2 linked regions of the Homo sapiens genome follow. The protein of the gene in region 2 purifies or fractionates together with the protein of the main gene of each other region. This does not show direct contact. Each region holds a gene or a part of one and is shown on either strand. Other genes may lie near its edges.

Evidence for each region.
Region 1: the proteins of SYT17 (region 2) and TF purify together in Homo sapiens (affinity purification with mass spectrometry; 3 studies listed by BioGRID and IntAct, with this or other methods). This does not show direct contact.

What each region holds. Positions count from the first base shown.
Region 1 is NC_000003.12:133,748,116-133,758,899, forward strand, and holds part of TF (serotransferrin isoform 1 precursor), read left to right. Parts: intron 1-296; coding exon 297-469; intron 470-5,479; coding exon 5,480-5,588; intron 5,589-6,379; coding exon 6,380-6,556; intron 6,557-7,247; coding exon 7,248-7,380; intron 7,381-8,166; coding exon 8,167-8,222; intron 8,223-8,715; coding exon 8,716-8,894; intron 8,895-9,653; coding exon 9,654-9,831; intron 9,832-10,784. UniProt on the Homo sapiens protein: Transferrins are iron binding transport proteins which can bind two Fe(3+) ions in association with the binding of an anion, usually bicarbonate.
Region 2 is NC_000016.10:19,219,016-19,229,799, forward strand, and holds part of SYT17 (synaptotagmin-17), read left to right. Parts: intron 1-4,029; coding exon 4,030-4,150; intron 4,151-5,667; coding exon 5,668-5,823; intron 5,824-10,784. UniProt on the Homo sapiens protein: Plays a role in dendrite formation by melanocytes.

The sequences.
Region 1 (10,784 bases), on a different chromosome or scaffold from region 2:
GAGACAAGGCGGATACAGAGGAGCAGATTGTCATCTCCAGCTGGGAGGTGATGGCCATGCCTGCACCCCTCTGGCCAGCAGAGGGTGGTCAGTAGGAAACTGGGAGGCCATTAGGGCAACCTTCTATTGGCTCAGACTCAGAATGCAGTAGAACTTGTGCCCTGTAGTGTTCATGGACAGGAGTGAGAGGAGGACAGGACTGAGGGGATGTGGCTGTCAAGGCCTTTCTAGGGGCGATGCTGTCTCTCCCTCAGCATAGGGAGTGGGCCCTTCCACCTCTGGCCTCTCTCCCCCAGGGCTGTGTCTGGCTGTCCCTGATAAAACTGTGAGATGGTGTGCAGTGTCGGAGCATGAGGCCACTAAGTGCCAGAGTTTCCGCGACCATATGAAAAGCGTCATTCCATCCGATGGTCCCAGTGTTGCTTGTGTGAAGAAAGCCTCCTACCTTGATTGCATCAGGGCCATTGCGGTAAGTCGCTGCTGCCTAAAAGAGAGTGGAAGAAAGCCATACTTTCTCTGTTTCCAGTCACTTTGGAACAATTCTTTACTCACAGGTAGGAGGCTGATATATGGGGCAGTCAACCTTGACTTACTAAAATCACTTCAAAAGTGGAAATGGGGAGGTTTTCTTTAATGTGTCTGGAAAGCAAAAGTCAAAAAGCACATTAACTTTTGCTTTCCAGACACAGTAGACGCAAGGGTGACTGTTTTGAGACCCTAGGTTCTCTGAACTTGGCGAAAATATAAGAATGCCTGCTATCAGGCTGGGCGCGGTGGCTCATGCCTGAAATCCTAGCACTTTGGGAGGCTGAGGCAGGTGGATCACCTGAGGTCAGGAGTTCGAGACCAGCCTGGCCAACATGGCGAAACCCCATCTCTACTAAAAAATATAAAAATTAGCTGGGCATGGTGGTGCATGCCTGTAATCCCAGCTACTTGGGAGGCTGAGGCAGGAGAATCACTTGAACCGGGGAGGCAGAGGTTGCAGTGAGCCAAGATCCTGCCACTGCACTCCAGCCTAGGTGACAGAGTGAGGCTCCATCTCAAAATAAATAAATAAATAAGAATGCCCACTATCAAAATTATTATATAACCTTCTTTGGCAGCTTTTGATACACAACTGGGAAGATGAGTGATGCATGCAGGGGGAAGAGTAAAGTGTCCTGATTGCAGGTGACAGCTGATCTTTTTGTTCTTAGGTCTACAAAAATGCTCTTCATTCTTTCAACGTTGCCCCTGCCCATCTGTACATGTCAGATCCTGTGCTGGGCAATGGGGCTGCAGTGGTGAATTAAACACATTGGTCCTTACCCTCAGGGAGCTCATGGGCTAGTCAGGAGAGCAGAAAAACACACGAATAAGTAAACTACTAATTCCAAAATGTGGGGATGTACAATGGAGGGAAAAAGGAGAGTGTTCTGACAGGGACTCACAGAAAAACCTGCTTTGTCCTGGGTGGTCAGAGACCATCTCTCTGAGAGAGATGTAATGAAGGACTGAGCCTGGGTGGGCTCCAGTGTAAAATACACCAGGCAGCAAACAAGAGCATATGCAAAGGGCCTGAGGCAGAGCAGAGTGGGCTTATTTAAGTTGCTAGTGGGAGGCCAGGGTGATGGGAGCTGTCAAAGATAAGCACAGCCAGATATTAGTTTAGGCAGTGACAATAGGTTTCATTCAGTAACTGCTGACAGTGGGGGAAAGAGCTAGGCTCCATTCTGATTTGTGCAGTGGTGATGTGAGCATTTTAAAGGGAGAATGAGGGAGGGGAGAACGCAGGGCTCTGTAGAGTCAGAGAAGTAAAAAGGTAGAAAGGGCTGGTCAGTGTAAATGTGAGGAGGCCAGCTGTGTCTGATAGCTGGCAGTTCTCTCGATTAGGACTCTATTCTCCCGCAGAGACTGCGAGACAGACACTCTATCCATCCTGATGATTGTGTTGCAAAGGAATGGCTCTCAGTCCTTGAGAGAGATGCTTGTGAGTTTCAAGAGATACATATTCACAGTTTTAAGTCCTTTTTAGTAAATTCTCTTGGAAAGGGAGGTCAGGGGCCTATCATCAGTTGTGTGTTGAGTAGAAGAAACAGGTACATTTTCCTGGCAGCACTGAGTTTTCTCAGGCAAGCACTTTAAGGGGAACCGGGCCATCCTAGGGACACAGATTTGTTCTGCTAGGAGCCATGCCAGAGTCTGGTCAGGTCTCTTAGTGCAGAGGTTTGGACAGATGTGTCAAGTGTGGGAAATTCTACAGTTCTCAGCACAAAGCAAGCAGTAGGTTAGCCGAAGGGAAAAGGTGGAAGAAACATCCAGATGCAGCCTGGCTTCCCTCAATCCCCGCGCTGGGGTTTTCCGTGTCTTTCTGCTGGCTTCCCCTTGGCTTCCCTCCAGCCTTCTCTCTGTAGCTTTCCCTCTTCTGGGTTTGGTTATTTTGACTTGTGAGAGCTTGCTTGATTATAATCCTGTCCCTCCCAGCTGGCGCAGGTTCCCCTGGGAACCCTGCAGCTCTAGGGCTGGACGCTGTGTTTTAGGCCTTAGCTCTTTGGCTCCCTGAGCCCCCGAGGCACCAGTGATTTCTTGGTGTCTTGGCAAAGAAAGACCAGGTTCCTGACCACTCTCCCAACCCCACTGCAATGGGCAAAGCTCTCGTTTGTTTGCTTCATTTTTTAAAAAATATATATATATTTTATTATACTTTAAGTTCTAGGGTACAAGTGCACAACATGCAGGTTTGTTACATATGTACACATGTGCCATGTTGGTGTGCTGCACCCTGTTTGCTTCATTTTTATTCAACAATGTGAGGACTGGGGAAGGGAAGGTGTTTGCAGATTAAACAAAACCACGAAGTGTGTTTCATATATAAGGTCTAGTTGTTGTGGAACAGAAAGGCCCATGATGTCTGTTAATTTTGTTTTGTATTGTGGTATATTAAAAATATGTTTTACAACCCAAATATCCATTGATGAGTGAATAGATAAATAAAATGTGGTAAACACAAATGATGAAATATTTTTAGCCTTAAAAATAAATGAAACTCTGATATATGCTACACTGAGATGAACCTTGAAAACATAAGTGAAGCAAGCTAGATACAAAAGGACAAATATTGTAAGATTCCACTTTTTTTTTTTTTTTTTTTTTGAGACGGAGTTTCGCTCTGTCGCCCAGGCTGGAGTGCAGTGGCGCGATCTCGACTCACTGCAAGCTCCGCCTCCCGGGTTCACGCCATTCTCCTGCCTCAGCCTCCCGTGTAGCTGGGACTACAGGCGCGCGCCACCATGCCCGGCTAATTTTTGTATTTTTAGTAGAGACGGGGTTTCACCGTGTTAGCCAGTATGGTCTCGATCTCCTGACCTCGTGATCCGCCCGTCTCGGCCTCCCAAAGTTCCACTTTTATGAAGTATCTAGAATAGTCAAATTTATAGAAACAGAAAGTAGCATAATGACTACCAGGGGCTGGAGTGGGGGAGAAATAGGAGGTAATTGTTTAATGTGTAAAGAGTTTCAGTTTCTGGAGATGGATAGATGTGATGGCTATAAAACAACGTGAATGCATGTACTTAATGCCACTAAAATGTACACTTGAAAATGGTTAAAATTGGCTGGGTGCGGTGGCTCACGCCTGTAATCCCAGCACTTTGGGAGGCCGAGGCGGGTGGATCACCTGAGGTCAGGAGTTTGAGACCAGCCTGGCCAACATGGTGAAACCCCATCTCTACTAAAAAAAATACAAAAATTAGCCGGGTGTGATGGCAGGCGCCTTAATCCCAGCTACTTGGGAGGCAGAGGCAGGAGAATCGTTTGAACCCTGGAGGCAGAGGTTACAGTGAGCCGAGATTGAGCCATTGCACTCAAGCCTGAGGGACAAGAGCGAGACTGCTGATATAGTTTGTCTTACAACATATTTTATTTCATTTAGAAATACTATTGTCTTATTACTTGATTGTAACACAACAAAGTTCATGGAACTATAGCTTTTGCTTTGTAATTTTTTTTTTTTTTTTTGAGAGTCTTGCTCTGTCACCTAGGCTAGAGTGCAGTGGTACAATCTCGGCTCACTGCAACCTCTGCATCCCAGGTTCAAGCGATTCTCCTGCCTCAGCTTCCCAAGTGGCTGGTATTACAGGCATGTGCCACCAAGCCCAGCTAATTTTTGTTTGTTTGTTTTGGTAGAGACAGTGTTTCACCATATTGGCTAGGCTGGTCTCGAACTCCTAACCTCAGGTGATCCACTTGCCTAGGCTTCCCAAAGTGCTGGAAGTACAAGGTATGAGCCACTATACCTGGCCTGCTTTGTAATTTGATCAATAAGAAATCTTCATAGAGAACTGGCAAGGGCTTCTGGAAAAATCATTTTGATTAAAGACATTTAAAACAAAAAAGGAGTAAAACTATGTGTTTAAGTGTCTAAATAAAAGATGGTTGGGCTCACTTTAAGGATTTACATAAAAAGAAAATAAATTATAGATCTAGTAAGAAGGCAGCTATAATATTTCAAGGGACCTGTTGATGTAAAGATGAGGGCTTACAGAAGCACAAAGTCAAAAAGGAACATAACCTGAAGTAACAGTGTAATGATAAGAAATAAACCCGGAATGTCTGCACTGAAATCCCAGCTCCATGACTTACTGGCTATGTGGCCCAGGGAAGTGACTTAACCTTTCTGTGCCTCATATTTCTCACTTGTAAAATGGAGCTGAGAGAGAAAGAGAGATGAGCTGCCCATGTGTTGGAGTAGACAATTATACCAGAGATGAGCAAAAATGGAAATAATAATCAAGCTTTTGATCATTCAGTACATAGTATCACCAAGAAGCTAAACCCAGAGAAAGTGCCCAATCCCTCAGCAAAAGGGTCATGCAGTTTTATGGACCCAGGACAGGAAGGAAGAGCATTGAGTACTGAGTCAGAGTGAAGACGAATGTTTTCAAGGTTCCCATCTTCCCCCAGAAAAAAAATCTCCACAGAAGCACCTGAGGAAGACCTCAAAGGAAGTCTCAAAATAAAGAGGGCTCTGAGCAAAGGTCATGGGCTAGGAATGAAAACAGGTGTAAGAAGAGCGTGGCCAGCCCAAGAGAGCTGTGTCCTTGACAGCAGAGTCCCCTCCAGAGACTGCATTGCACTGGCTGTGCTCTGAGTCTGGGGTGGCGAGGGCGGCTTTCTCCCACGGAGCCTGCCAGGTTAAGCCTTCGTAATTGCCTACGGTAAAGTCACGTAGGATTTTTGGCCAGGAGCTGGGCACCTCACCGGGGAAAAGAGAAACACAATCCATCACTCCCTCTATGCAGAAGGAATAGGAATGTGGTGGCTAAGTGCCCTTGCGAGGGAGACAGAGTCAACTGAAGCCAGCAGGGCTGTGCGTGGTCTAGTCAAGTTCTGGCCCTGGGTCCGTGGAGTCCTGGTAGCCACTCTCTACTTGTGTGGGTTGAGGTGGGCCTTCCTTGGAAGTCAAGGCTTCATCCAGGACTGGCCTGTTCTCTTTCAGGCAAACGAAGCGGATGCTGTGACACTGGATGCAGGTTTGGTGTATGATGCTTACCTGGCTCCCAATAACCTGAAGCCTGTGGTGGCAGAGTTCTATGGGTCAAAAGAGGGTAAGTTCTCCCTGGGACCCCAGGAAGGAGTTGTCATCCTTATTCTATATGCTGAGTGCTGTGTTTTACAGGCAGGTTTTGGATATCAGATATAATGAACATTCATCTTTGGAGAGTGAGTAGAGAATGAGGGGCCCTGTCAGCTGCCACAGCCACACATCAAGGCCTCTGGGGGCTTTGGGCTGGCTGAGGACTGGTGCTCCTAAAACTGAGCCCTGGGCCAGGGGCATATGCTTATCAGAGAAACACAGCAGGCTGTGTGCAGCTTGACCTGAAGGCTACTGCGGTCTACTGATATGTCTAGGGTCCCTGGAGGCCTCTGGAGCCATAGGTACCACTCACACAGGAGGGGTCACTCTGGAGCACACACTCAGAGGCCAGCAGCCCTGCAAGTCTTCTGAGATCAACCTGACTGTCTCTGGGCCTGTGCCAGGGGACATGAAATACTTTGATGGGCCTCTGTTACCACAGCTCCAGTTTCCTGGTGGCTGAGGTTGGTAGGTGTAGGCAGACACGCTGCAGGGCCAGGGGAGGCAAAGCATTCAGGACACATGTGCGTGTGGCCTTCTTGCCCCTGTTTGCCTGGAGGGGTAATATTATAAATATTCCTTCTATGGTCTTCTCTCTCCCCTGCAACCCTAGGAAGGTTTTCCTGATTCCCCACTCCTTATCGCCCAGTCCAGTAAAAGCATGGCCTCTCCGCTCCCCTCCCTCCTCAAGAGTCCGGTGGTGATGAGCCATGTTTCCCTGCACCAGGCTGAGGGCCTTCCATTCACACTGTGCCTTTGCAGATCCACAGACTTTCTATTATGCTGTTGCTGTGGTGAAGAAGGATAGTGGCTTCCAGATGAACCAGCTTCGAGGCAAGAAGTCCTGCCACACGGGTCTAGGCAGGTCCGCTGGGTGGAACATCCCCATAGGCTTACTTTACTGTGACTTACCTGAGCCACGTAAACCTCTTGAGAAAGGTAAGCTGGCAGGAGTCTGGGTGCCCTCGAGCAGCTGCCTCTGCTCCAGATGCCCACACAGGCTGCACTAGACAGTCACCATCAGCAGACATGTGGGATGAACTCAGGTGGGGGAAAGAGGTTAACAGACTTTAAACTGGCAGGTCTGCTGCACCAGCAGCACTTGGGAGGTGGAGCTGAGCTTTTTTCTGCTCTGAGCTTCCAAAACCCCAGCAGAGGCTGTTCTGATGAGTGAGGAAAGGGCGCAAGGCTCGGCAGAGGGTTTCAGTCTAGGCGATGGTGGTTCTCTTGTCCACTTCTCTGGATTTCTTTCCTGGAGGTTTCTCTGGAGCCCTGCACCTCTCTTAAGCAGTTCTCATGTCTGGGGCATGGATCCCAGAGGGGACCTCTCTCTGAGCTGTTCCAGCCTCTGACAAAGCAGGGAGAAGGTGCTCTGAGAAAGACCCGAGATAGGCCTTGGTTAGTGGGAAGCATAGGCCTGTTTCCTCTGATGGATGGTGGCCAGACAGAGGTCAACTTGTTCCTATTAGAAATCCTTGATCTTGATGAGTTAGCATAAGGGCAAGCTGGGGCTGCATGTGCTGGTTTGGTTTTAGTCCCCTCTGTTCCCTGATGGGCCTGGGTGGGGTGATGCCATTGGCTGTGGCCAGCCTCACTCATGCTCTGTTGTCCATTTCTCTGTGCTGAGCAGCAGTGGCCAATTTCTTCTCGGGCAGCTGTGCCCCTTGTGCGGATGGGACGGACTTCCCCCAGCTGTGTCAACTGTGTCCAGGGTGTGGCTGCTCCACCCTTAACCAATACTTCGGCTACTCGGGAGCCTTCAAGTGAGTGAGATGTCTGCTGCTCCATGGTGGCCAAAGTGCCAAATGTCCTCAGGGTGAGAGTTCTTTGCTGGTCCAAAGCCGAGCCCTGCCTGCCTACAGGGGCATCGAGGTGGCCTAATCCCCTCCCAGTGAGTCAGAAGCACAACCTGGGACTCCTAGGCCAAGCCAGCCCATGTTCCCTTTCATCTGACCCTGACAAGTAGGTCCTTTTCCTGGGGACCCTTCCTTTCTCCCCAGAGCCCTCAAGCCTGGTCAGTGTCTCCTCTCGGTGGATCGGGCAGAGCCTGAAAGGACAATCATGCCTCTAGTGTCTGGGCCCACTGTCCAGGGACTGGCCCTCTTCCCTCAATCTCAGCAGTGTTACCTGCTCAGCACACTGCCTGTCTCCTGCCCCCATCACCGTCTCTATCTGGGAAGCTGATTTCTTGCTTTCTCTTTTTACCTTGATTATATCCTAAAGTTTTACAACCAGCCAAAGGCACATTTTCACCCTCAGGAGACACTATACCATTATCTTCTATTCCAGAAGTTTAAAAGCTCTTTTCACATGAAAATATCTTCAGTTGCATTTTGCTTCTTTGGGTTATGAGGGCTTTTTATCTCGTGTGAGCTCATTCCCCCATCTCAGCACTACGCTGGAGGTCTGCACACCATGGTGTTGCTTCAGCTACGGGGCTGCACCAGGCTCTATCCTAGTGTGAGTGCTGGACAGTGTGATCAGACTCTCCAGGTGCAGGAGAAGGGCCTGCCCTGCAGGAGCCCTGCTGATGTGTTTCTTTGACCCAGGTGTCTGAAGGATGGTGCTGGGGATGTGGCCTTTGTCAAGCACTCGACTATATTTGGTAAGAATGGGACAAGAATCCACCAGGGCCACTCCAAGTAGTGGGTGTTCTTTTTCTGTGTTCCCTTTTTCATGCTCAGTAATTGGAAATGAGCATACTGTATTTCTCCTTTATCATTGCCTGGGTTTCCACCTGTGCAGAGTTAGGTACCTACGGGGTCCCCATCTGGATTCCTGGGCCTCTTTCCATCATTCAATCTCTCCACACGGTGCCTCTGCCTCTGGGGTAGTGTTGCCATAACCAAAGACTGGGGGTTGGTGCTGCTAAGATCAGGCTCATGGTGGAATGAGGAGCAATCACTGCTACATGGGCATCAGAAGCCTTTACCTGGCTGTGGGCTCTTGAGCGAGTCATTCTCCCGCATGTTCTCTGGCCTTCAGTGCTCACTCCAGACCTCTCAGCTCATACTTTCTATGATCAATTGAATTTCAAGGATGGGCACCACAGCCCATGGCTCTCCTGTGTTAAGCTCACCTGGGCTTTCCCTCCCCAGAGAACTTGGCAAACAAGGCTGACAGGGACCAGTATGAGCTGCTTTGCCTGGACAACACCCGGAAGCCGGTAGATGAATACAAGGACTGCCACTTGGCCCAGGTCCCTTCTCATACCGTCGTGGCCCGAAGTATGGGCGGCAAGGAGGACTTGATCTGGGAGCTTCTCAACCAGGCCCAGGTATCCCCACCTGCCATCCTCCCCTCCAGCTTAGTGCTCCCTGCTTGGATTTGGGGGTTTTCCTCCTGGCCATCTTGTCACTCTGGAAGTCTGTGTGTTCAGGATACAGTGGGAGCCATGCCACATGTCACTAAGTTCTCTAAAAGCTGGGACTCCCCACAGAGCAGCAGGGAGCCTGCTGTGGTGCTACCGTCTGCCGCCCTTGCCTTTCTGGCTGGTGACACCTGAAGAGGCTCTGTATTGCTCTGTTGCATTCCTTTCTACCTAAACTTCAAGGCCCAAAGCTAAACCCCTCCCCAAGGAGGCTTTCCATGACCCTCCCAGAAGGAAATGGTCTCTCTCCCCATGCCCCTCAGCCCGGCTGTGAGGGGGCTGCCTGCACAGCGGCTTTACTTCCCAAGAGCTGTGTGATTTGGGCTCAGCCAGCTTCCTCTTGCCGAGCCGTCCCATCTGTCCACTGAGAGTTTGACTGGTAACCACACAGGGCAGCCTCTGGATTAGCCACGTTTCTTGTTCTCACCGATGTCTCAACCCGTTCCGGGAGACAGGCACAGAAGCAGGTTCAGGCAAATCGCGGACCCACGAGGGCTACAGGCAGAGGAAGTGCTGGGTGAGCAGGAGCAGGTCCGACTGCCCTCTCTCCTGGCATCTTGAACTTTTTCATGTTGTTTCCTGCAGAGATTTCTTTTCTCTTCAGTCCCATTTCTCAGCCTCCTTTCTTCTGTGTTGCCATCCACTATTCTGTTTTTCTATGAACAGGAACATTTTGGCAAAGACAAATCAAAAGAATTCCAACTATTCAGCTCTCCTCATGGGAAGGACCTGCTGTTTAAGGACTCTGCCCACGGGTTTTTAAAAGTCCCCCCCAGGATGGATGCCAAGATGTACCTGGGCTATGAGTATGTCACTGCCATCCGGAATCTACGGGAAGGCACATGTGAGTACCTGGGAAGAACCAGGTGACCACAAGCACTTGGGAAACCTGGTGAGCACAGGGGCCAGAGATTGAGTCTTTTCAGGGACCTGCACGCCTCTCCTGATGCTCCTTTTTCTGACCTGTCTGTGAGCCCAGTGTTAGACTGATGCTGAATGGCGTTAGTCATTATGAGATGGCCTTGATGTCACCATGGGCTTTACAGGAAATCCACATTTAAAATGACGTGGGTTGGTTCCAGTATTTCCTTTGCATCAATCAGGACTGCCTTACCTACTCTGTGAAGGCAATTAGCTTATCACAGAGTAAGTGAAATAGAACAAAATTGCTATATATTGCACATCTCCAGCCAGTCAACATGTACCATAATGAAGAGGTGCTCTAAGAGAGGTTGATCCCAGTCCTGGATTTCACTGAGTCACTGTGGTTTTGCTTGACCATTCATTTATTCAGCAGACATTTATTGAACATCTAGCCATATGCTCTGCTAGGTGCTGGACATAGGATGGCATGACAAATATATATTTGATTCTGTTGTCCTGGAAATTTCAAACTGGGGAGAAGATAAATGTTTAATGAATAGTCATGCTATTGGATGATGAATTACAAAGTAAGAGATATGTTTAAAAGGGGAAAAATATGACAACAAAATACCATGGCCCTATGAGACTGCAAAACAAAGAAAAATAGGCCCTGGACTTGGCGTTAAGGCAAAGCTTCCTTGAGGAAGTGACTCTTGAGCTCAGTCTGAAAGATGAGCAGATGTACATTTATTCATCAGACATTTATTATGCTGACCATGTGCTAGCATTGCCCTAACCCTGAGGATGCCCTGGTGAACAAGACAGGCAGGGCCCTTTCTGTGTTGGAGCTTCTGTTCTCCTGCAGAAAACCTGACAATAAACAATGAACATATAAATAAGAACACCTCCAGTAGTTAAGTGCTATCTGAAAAA
Region 2 (10,784 bases):
GAACCCCATCCATTCTCTTACACTGCCTAATTTGTCTTGTTTTCCTTTTTCATATTTATTTTATGTTTTTAATGGGAATATTTCCCACATAAAATAATAAAACAAGGCCGGGCGCGGTGGCTCACGCCTGTAATCCCAGCACTTTGGGAGGCCGAGGCGGGTGGATCATGAGGTCAGGAGATCGAGACCATCCTGGCTAACAAGGTGAAACCCCGTCTCTACTAAAAATACAAAAAATTAGCCGGGCGCGGTGGCGGGCGCCTGTAGTCCCAGCTACTGGGGAGGCTGAGGCAGGAGAATGGCGTGAACCCGGGAAGCGGAGCTTGCAGTGAGCCGAGATTGCGCCACTGCAGTCCGCAGTCCGGCCTGGGCGACAGAGCGAGACTCCGTCTCAAAAAAAAAAAAAAAAAAAAAAAAAAAAAAAAAAAAAATAATAATAATAATAATAATAAAACAAACACCCATGTGTCCATCTCCCAGATGTCGTAAGTCGCCAATATTTTGCCACATTTGCTTACTTCAAATCACTCCCTTTCAATCAACTGCATTGAGGCGGAACTTACTGTTTGTTGATTTTTGGCAAATGCACACGTAACTGCTACCACAATCAAGATATAGCATATTGCTATCACCCAAGAAATGTTCTTCCTTTCTCTCACTCTGCTATATTTTTCTTCCTAATACTTAGCATTACCTGAAATCATCTCATTTATGTATTTTTTAAAATCTGTGTGCTATCCATCCCCCCCACAGGAGTGTATGTTCCATAAAGTCAGGGACGGTTCTCACTGGTGTATCCTTAGTCCTGGTACATAGTAAACTGTTTTTTGTTCTGTTTTGTTTTTGTTTTGTTTTGTTTTGTTTTAAAATAAAAGGAAATATCACTGTGACTTATAAACCTGGGAGGAGCAAAGTCCAGGAGGACCTGGATGGCCTGGGCTCCTGAGAATTCTCCGCATTGCTCATACTAGAGTAGATGTGTCAGCAGGGTCATGCCCTAAAGACACCGCATCTTCCAAGCCCTTGAGAAGCAGCAGGAAACCCCTAGCAACAGTGCAAAAGGGGCTGAACTTCTTTTATTACTCAAGACACTCAGTTGACCATTCCTATTTTGAAAATCTCCATACTTGGATACCCAGGGCAGGGCAGCAGGAATGTAAAGGGGCAGAAATGGACAGATGAGGTATGATGTGAAGGGGGCAGGTCCCATCTAAAGGAGCACTGCACTGCTCTGTGGCTAGATGTTGGGTTAAAGAAAATTATTCAATGACATTTCTTTCTTTCTTTCTTTTTTTTTTTTTTTTTGAGATGAAGTCTCGCTCTGGTGCCTGGGCTGCAGTGCAGTGGTGTGATTTCGGCTCACTGCAACCTCCGCCTCCTGGATTCAAGTGATCTGCCTCAGCCTCCCAAGTAGCTGGGATCACAGGTGCACACCACCATGTCTGACTAATTTTTGTATTTTTACTAGAGATGGGGTTTCACCATGTTGGCCAGGTTGGTCTTGAACTCGTGACCTTAGATGATCCACCCACGTTGGCCTCCCAAAGTGCTGGGGTTACAGGCATGAGCCACTGCACCTGGTCCTCAATGACACTTCTTGAAGTATGGCAAGGCAGAATTTATTGAGGACCATCATGATATGTACAGGGACCACAGTAATGGGATTTTTCAGTCACAGAGAGAAACTAGGCTCAGCCTCAAATACAGCATAGACAAATGGGAATCTATAGCCATGGAGCAAAGTCGGGGGTCAGGGATTTTTTAAAAACATTACTAAGAGGAAGCATCAGAGGAGTAAGGGGGACTCTGGCTAAATCAACCTAGCAGGATTTTTGCTGGAGACAGGCCAGGGTGATCAGACATTACCTGAGGGATGACGAAGAATGAAGAACCTGTCTGGGCATGATGGCTCATGCCTGTTATCCCAACAGTTTGGGAGGCTAAGGCAGGAGGATCACTTGAGGCCAGGATTTCAAGACCAGCCTGGGTAACACAGGAAGACCTCAACTCTTAAAAAAAAAAAAATCATCCAGGCATAGTGGCACATGCCGTAATCCCAGCTATTCAGGATGTTAAGGTAGTAGGATCCCTTGAGCCCAGGAATTTGAGGTTGCAGGGAGCTATGATCATGCCATTGTTCCAGACTGAGTGATAGGGTGAGACCTTGTCTCAAAAAAAAAAAAAAAAAAAAAAGAGAGAGAGAGAATGAGGAATCTGACCAAACTGACTTAGCAGCGTTCTTTGCAGAAACTGGATTTTACAAGGTGGTGCACTGATGGGCCTAGGAGGTTTAGGAGCCTGACTAAAGTTTGGTCAAGTAAAGAATCTTTGTCACTTGCCTGGTGGGAATGCCAGCGTTACCAGATCTTCCTGTTTTTCAAGCAAGGCAAGAAACCCACATTTTTTAAAAATGTGGAATAGCCTGATTCTTGAATTGTATAATAATTAACAAGTAATTATAAGTTAAAATGTGATGTGGGGCAAACAAAATACACCTGCAGGCTGTTTGTTAGCAACTTCTGAGTTAACATGCGAGATTGTTTCTTGTTTGTTTGGGGACTAACTCACTCAGTACAGGAATCTTTTGGTTTGACTGTTCACCCTGTCAGTAGATGTTTATTGAGTATCTACTATGTGCTAGGCATTGTTCTAGAGCCGCTGGGTATTGTGCTAGGCATTTGGCATTAATTTGTTGAAATGACTGGCATCAAAAAAGATAGAGATGAAAGATAGATGATAAAGATAGATAATAGACATAGATAAATAGATGACTGACAGATAATAGATGGTTAGATTATAGATAGATGAGACAGTTAGATAGATAGATAGAGATGTTACCCTTTAAAGATACATATTGAAATATTACAAATAATATAATGACTGGGAGTTACTTCAGAGGAATATGGGGAGTTGAATGAAGGTGTAAGTGAGGGGAGATTCACCATGGGATGAGAATTTTTGAAGCTGAATGATGTTTGGGTACGAAGATGGTGGGGTATACTCTTCTGTCTGGTTTTGAATATGACTGGAAATTTCCCACACTAAAATGCTTGTTTTAATGTCCTCATCAGTTAAAGATGCATTCTGAAGGATATGCAGGTACAATGACACCATATCGAGGGCTTAGTTTAAAATATTCAGCTAAAACGTTTCACAAGTCAGAATATAGGTGAAATACCATTTGGCAAAATGTCGATAATTGTTACAATTTTGTGACGGATAGATGGAGATTTGTTATGCTAGTCTATTGTTTTGTATATGGCTGAAATTTTCTACAATACTTTTTTTTTTAAAAGGGGACAGAGAAGTGGGAGGCCTCCTGTTTTCTAGGTACCTTTGGCAGTATGGAGTCATGCACTTAGGTGTTCATGGGAATTTTCCACAGTGTGACAGAGCTGACATCAAGGGGATGGGTACTCTTCAACAAGGGATGTCACTGTGCCGAGTGTTGCTATCGTGAGGTTAGAAGCGTGGGATCTGCTGGGGACTCCAGGTTAAGAACAGATTTCTCACTCAGTTCCTCTGCAGGGCATTCTACCTCCCAGGTATCCTATTGGATGGCAGAATAACAGCAGTCAGAGTATCTGGAACCAAATCAGCCTCCCTGGGTTTAAGTACCAGCTCTACCACTTTCTTGCTGTGGCTTTGGACATGTTATTTAACCCTGTGAGCCTCGGTTTCCTCATCTGTTAAACAGAGTTAATACTAATACCTCACAGACTCATTAGTCATTACATGTAAAGCGCTTAGCGTAGTACATGGCAGTGAAGCATTTTTTAAAAAATTATTGCTGCTTTTGTTGTTATTGTTGTTGCTGTTGAGTGATCTAAGAGCGGAAAAAACTCAGAGATAGATGGACCACAATAATTAGAGGCAGAGATGAAAAGAAGTCACACACAGAGGCTCCCACTGTCAACTGATGCGCTCACAGCAACCTGTTTGTGAGCTGCTGCAATCAATTTCTTGTATGGTGGGTGCAAAAGGAATAAAAGGAGAAGGCAACTTCCTGATCATTTCCTTTCTCTACAGAATGAAGTGGAGCTGGGGGAGCTGCTTCTGTCACTGAATTATCTCCCAAGTGCTGGCAGACTGAATGTTGATGTCATTCGAGCCAAGCAACTTCTTCAGACAGATGTGAGCCAAGGTTCAGGTACCGTGTGATTCCCCTCTTCTCTCACTTTATTAATGGGGCATCTGTGTTTGTGTGGAGAACCCAGTTTTCTTTTTCCGTATCCTGGATGAGCATTACTCATCTCAGGATGAGGCAGGTAAATGATGCCATCTTAGTAACCCTATTGGAATTGGGGAGTTGACTGAGACTGGTTGTGATAACTACTGGAAACTTAAAACCTATTTGAACCCAAGGAAGTGACTTGGCCTTTCCAAATGCTATTCCTGCAATGTAGACGCCATCCTGCAGGTGGCGATAGTGTGCATTGACTATCCATTCTAATCAATGAGCGTGGAGGACACACCCTAAGGTTTTTCGCCAGCTCATTTCATGTGTGCCATAAATTTTTATGAATTCCAACTCTGAAAAGACTTGTATTTAAAGTGTGTATATTATAGCAAAAACCATTCAAACATGACTTTTAATGGAACGGAACAGATTCCATTCCATCTGCATGTTGCTTCTTCCATGACAGCAAAGGATATTACTGTGAAAGCAGCTGTAGTCAGGGATCTGTTCAGCTCAGTGGTGGAATTATTGTCTTCTCTAAGTGCGGTAGCTAAAATAAATTACTTTTGCAATAAGGTGACAGCTAGAAGACACCTTGCATTCTCAAAAGCCACATTATAAAAACAGAGGCTTAGAAAGGGCCAGTGGAGGCAATGGTATTAAGACTGAAGAGTTTCAGACTCACCACGATGGGAGAGTCAGTATGATAAAATCATTAAGGGTTTAGGAGTCAAATGATGTGGCTTACAAATGATGTGGCTTTAGGGAAGTTACTTAACCACTATGTGCCTCAATTTCTCAATCTCAAAAACTGACATAATAACAGTATTCATCTTGATAAGTTGTTTAAACAAATATTAAATTAGATAATGTACATGAATCCCTTTGTAAACTGTAAAATGATCTAAAAATGAATTATAATTCTGCCATCTCTATTCACCTGTATATGGGCTATGGGCTCACTGAAATGATAATGGGTTTCCACAGACAGAAATCCAGGGCAGGCTCTGAGTCTGGTTCTGTGTCCACCAGCAAGATCTTTAAAAACTGATTTCTCACCTTGAGTCCTCAGTTTTCTTATCTGTAAAATGAACACAATGCTGACATATGGGAGGAGCTCAACAAATATTAGATGGCTAAAGGAAGAAGGAAGGGGATAAGCAGATGAATGGGAAAATGGATGGATAATAGATGGATGGATGGTTGAACTGTCAAATAGATGAGAAATTGGATGGATAGAAAATGGATAGATAAAAGTATGGTGAGATGATGAATGGATCAGTGAACTGACGGATGGAAAGATGGATGGATGGATAAACAGGTGGATGAATGGACGGACTATGAGATGAATGAAAAGTTGAATGGGTGGATGGATAGAAGAATGGAGGAATAAAAAGACAGATGGATGGGAGGTTGAATGGCAGAATGACTGGACGGATTAGGTTTCATGATCTCCAACATTCTATGATGCTGTGTCTAATTTTCAGACCCCTTTGTGAAAATCCAGCTGGTGCATGGACTCAAACTTGTGAAAACCAAGAAGACGTCCTTCTTAAGGGGCACAATTGATCCTTTCTACAATGAATCCTTCAGCTTCAAAGTTCCCCAAGAAGAACTGGAAAATGCCAGCCTAGTGTTTACAGGTAGGTAGCATTCCAAAACCCGATGAACTCCAGGTGAGGCACGTCAAACTTACTGTCCTAGAGCCAGAAGGCATCTAGAGAGAGTTACATTTAAGAACGTAATGTCTGGCATTCAACTACCTGGGTTTGAACCCACTTAACATCTATGAACTGGGGCAGGACTCATAGAGCCCTATAATATAATTGTTAGAAATGTGGACTTGAGCCAAATTTCCTCAGACTGCCACATAATAACTGAGGTCTTTGGCAAGTTACTTAACTCCTCTGAGCTTCAGTTTCCTCATCTACAAAATGTGAACAATAATAGTACGTGTGGCATAGGTTTGTTGTGAACAGTAAATGACTTACGACTTTGCAATATACTTGGTACATAATAAGTACTCACTATGTGTTAGTTTTGATGATGATGGTGGTGATGATTCAAGTTCCCTGCAGTCAAATAGAGAGGCATATGAAAAAACAGTGTCACCTAACTCAGAAAAAGGGATTTTTAAAGTCTTCCCAGAGGATGTAGTATTTAAGTAGAGGCTTCATGTGACACTGTCTGGTAGAATTTAGTCCATTTTTCCAGGGTGTAATCTAATGTAGTATTTCCAGGGTATATTAGTTATTTATTGCAGCATAATAAATCACCCCAAAATTTAGTAGCTTGAAACAACAAACATTTATATCTCATAGTCCCTGTGGGTCAGAAATTCAGGTATACAAAGCTTTGCTGTATAGTTCTGTGTGAATACCTCTGACAAGGCTGCAATCAAGGTATTGGCTGAGGCTGCAGCCTCATCTGAAGGCTCAACTGGGGGAGGATCTCTTTTCAAGCTCACTCACAGTTTTCAGCATGATTTAGTTCCCTGCAGGCTGTTGAACTGGGGACCTCAGTTCCTTCCTGGTTGTTGGCCAGTGACCTTCCTCAATTCCTTGCCACATGGGCTTTACCATAGAACAACTCACAACATGACTTTCATCAGAGTGGTCAAGTGAGGGAGCAAGAATGGCAAGGAAGAGTCTTTTTGTAATCTAATACTGGAAATGACATCCTATTACTTTCATTATATTCTATTCACTAGAAGCAATTCACTAGGTCCAGCCCACACTCAAGAGGAAGGGATTACACAAGGGTAGGAAGAGTGGGAGGTGGGAACCACTGGGACTCATCTTAGAAGCTACTCACCACAACAGGGATAGAGTTAGTAGGAGTAATGGTTATTCTTTCTTGTGTTCTAATTACAGTATGTACTTCCCTATATCATTGCTAACATTCACCATAACCCACCCTGTCAAGTTGATATCTTCATCCTCAACTTACAGATCTAGGGACTGAGGCTTAAAACCTAAACAACCTACACAAAGTCTCAAGCTGATAGAATCAGGACTCAAGCTCTGGTCTTGCCAGCTCCACATATCAAGGGATCTATATTTCCTCAAACACCCAGGTAGGGCTAGAACTGGGGATCGACATCATCCTTTGAGACATCCTTCTCCAGGGTAACTGGAAACTCTCCTCTGGTTAGATCTTGTCTAGAACCCTGGGCTCCAGGTCTCCCAAGAAATCAATCCATGGCTGAAAAACCCTTGCATACAAGATTTCCCCTATATAAACTTATTGCTCCTTCTCACCAAGATTGCAAATGTCTATCCTCTGAGACCCCTTCGAAGCAGGTTGGTTCTGGGTTTTCTCAAGGCCTGTCACCCATAGAGTCTGCGTTGAATCAGGGGATGCCTGCCATATGCAGATATAATGATCCCTTCTAATGCAGTCTGTGATGGCTGCTGTCCGGATGGAGTTACAAATAGACAAGGGCCTCACTCTCTCCTAGGTTTCAGGCCAAGACAGAAGACCGTCACCCCTGACTCCTTAAATGGTGGACAGGCAGGTAGTGGGGCCTATTGTATATTAAACCAAGACACAGATAAAAAATGAAGTCTCTTTTCCCAAGTCCCTGCTGAGAATAAGGGACCTCCTATTGTAAGCTTAGATGAGGAGAGGACCCCAGGGGAAACTGAGAGCCCCCATGGAAAGCCCTGACACTTCATATTTTACTTAACATTTTATGATAAATGTAGCACACACGTGTTATAATGAGTGACACCATGAAAAGATGTGTAAGGACAGAGAATCAGAGGAGAACAGGGGTTATGTGCCTGTGCTGGGGAGCTGATGTCTGGGTCCTGGCTTTACCACTCACCTACTTTGGTGACCCTGGGCAAGATCTGCGTGCTTAGGTTTTCTCAGCTGTAAAATGGGGATAACAATACAGGACACTTCACAGGATTGTTATTTGCATTCAGTGAGATCAATAAACACACGGTGCTGAGCACTGTGCCACCCATAGTAAGCACTCTAGAACTGTTAACTGTTATTAAAGGGAAAGTTTAGTGTTTTCCTTTTTTCTCCCACACACATGGGGCAGCCACCACCTTCTCACTCCCTCATGCAGTTTTGTTTATTTCAGAGTGTTTTCTTGCTGTGTAATCCTTCTCCCCGCTTTTTTTTTTTTGAGACAATCTCATTCTGATGCCCAGCTGGAGTGCCATGGCATGATCTCGGCTCACTGCAAGCTCTACCTCCCAGGCTCAAGCAATTCTCGTGCCTCAGCCTCCTCAGTACTTGGGATTATAGGTGCACGCCACCATGCCTGGATAATTTTTTGTATTTTTTGTAGAGACGGGGTTTTACCATGTTGGCCAGGCCAGTCTCAAACTCCTGACCTCAAGCAATCTGCCCACCTCGGCCTCCCAAAGTGCTGGGATTACAGGCATGAGCCACCACGCCTGGCCTAATGTCTTCCTTTAATGCCTTCCCCTTTCCAGTTCCTTCTCCCTGAAGTCATGCCTTTAATGTTCTGCTGTGTAGCATTCCACACTTTTTTCCTTGTTCACACAAACAATATCCACATACAGAGGGTTCTGTTCCTTTAAAACATTATTCATGAATTCAGCAAGTGTGTATTAAACACCTTCTGTGCCAGGCAGTGCTTCCAAGTTCTGGGAATAGAGCAGTGAACAAAACAGACCTAATCCCTGCCCTGGCGGAGCTTACCAGGACATTCCATGGATACCACACTGACACTTGCTTTGGTTTAATTAACAATGAATGTGTTCGTTGCCTTCAGATCAATATGAATACAAATGGATTTAACTTTTCATTTTTAATAACTGCATTAGATACTGTTGCATGATGTAGTATGATAAAAGCTGAGGTTATTTATTCTGGGGGTGGGGGGGTATGACAGAACTTCAGGGATTGTGATTAGAACTCCAGAAAAATACATGGAAGTATGGAAAATTTTGCATATAGTTGCAGAGGTTTTTTCGAATTCCTTGAATTCCATATGGTTACCTCATAAGGCTCAAACTACAAGGGTAGCCACACCACACCCCCTCTCCATACATCTTTTATTCAACCCACGGCACTTCAGGTGGCAACTGTCAGCTGGGGCAGTGGTCAGCTGATGCTGTCAGGGAAGTCCTGTACTCTCCATTCACAGAAGACCCGCTTCTCTCCTGTAAGTTTTGGGGCCCTGACTTGGAAGTTCAGGCTCCTCTGGTTAAAAGCTCGTTGAAAATATTCTTTCTGGAGAAGGAAGCATTGCCTGCCTGCCCCCTTAAATCAGGGATTCTCAACCCTGGCTGTACCTTAGAATTACCTGAGAGCTTTAAAATGCTACCAATGGCTGCACTGCATTCCGCAGAGACTCTAAAGCAACTGGACTAGGCTGAGGCACTGAGCATCTATAAGTAGCTATTTTTTAAAAACACCCCAGATATTTCTATTGCTCATTCATTGTTCCGAACCACAGCTGTGAGTGGAAATCCCAGCTAGGGTGGCAATTTACATAAAGGGTACTGGCTGGAATAATATGAGAAAGGTGTCTTAAGCCAGTATGTATCTCAGCAAAGCTACAGTTCTCCTGAACTCAGATTCATAAGGTTCTAACCTGCTTTATTTGTCCACTGAGAGAAAGAGCTGTCACCTCTAGGCCGAGGAACCAAAGCCCAGCCTATTAGCATGTTTCCAAACACTTCATAACAAAAGTAAGGTTGGTCTGCAATTTAGCATTTGCCGTGAATCCCTGGTAAAAGCCTGTAATTAGCTGGTAAGCTGGACTTTCTGAACACTTGTTTTCCTGTGTGGGAGGAGGATTTGTCTGCAATTTTCTATCAGGTGGTTTCTGCAGCTGAAGTTTAAAAATAAAAAATGAAAAGAGGGGTAAAATTGCTTTTCACCGCCCAAGATAGCAACACACAGCCCAGAGGGCTTCCAGGAAATTCAGGAAGGTTTACTGAACCAAAGTAAAGTGGAGCTGGCCACTGAGGTGATTGGGCTTTTACTGGATGTTGGGAAAAAGAAGGAAAGAAAGCGTATTAGTCCGTTCTCGCATTGTTACAATGAAATACCGAAGACTGGGTAATTTATAAAGAAAAGAGTTTAATTGGCTCATGGGTCCTCAGGCTGTACAGGAAGCATGAGGCTGGCATCTGCTTGGCTTCCCAGGAGGCCTCAGGAAACGTACAATCATGGAGGAAGGGAAAGAGGGATCGTGCACCTGACATGGCCAGAGCAGGAGGAAGAGAGTGAAGGGGGAGGTGCCACACACTTTTAAACAAGCAGATCTCAGGAGAACTCACTCACTATATAGTACCAAGGGAGATGATGCTAAACCATTCATGAGAAATCCACTCTTATGATCCATCACCTCCCACCAGGCCCCACCTCCAACATTAGTGTTTACAATTTCACATGAGATTTGGGTGGGGACACAGAGGCAAACCATATCAGAAAGGCAGAAAAAAGAAATGCAGCTTGATGGCAAATCTTCAAAAAGTTAAAAATAGAATTAGCATGTGATCTAGCAATTGCACTTGTAGGTATATACCCAAAAGAATTGAAAGCAGGGACTCAAACTCTTATTTGTACACCTACGTTCATAGCAGCTTTCCTTACAACCACCAACAGGTGG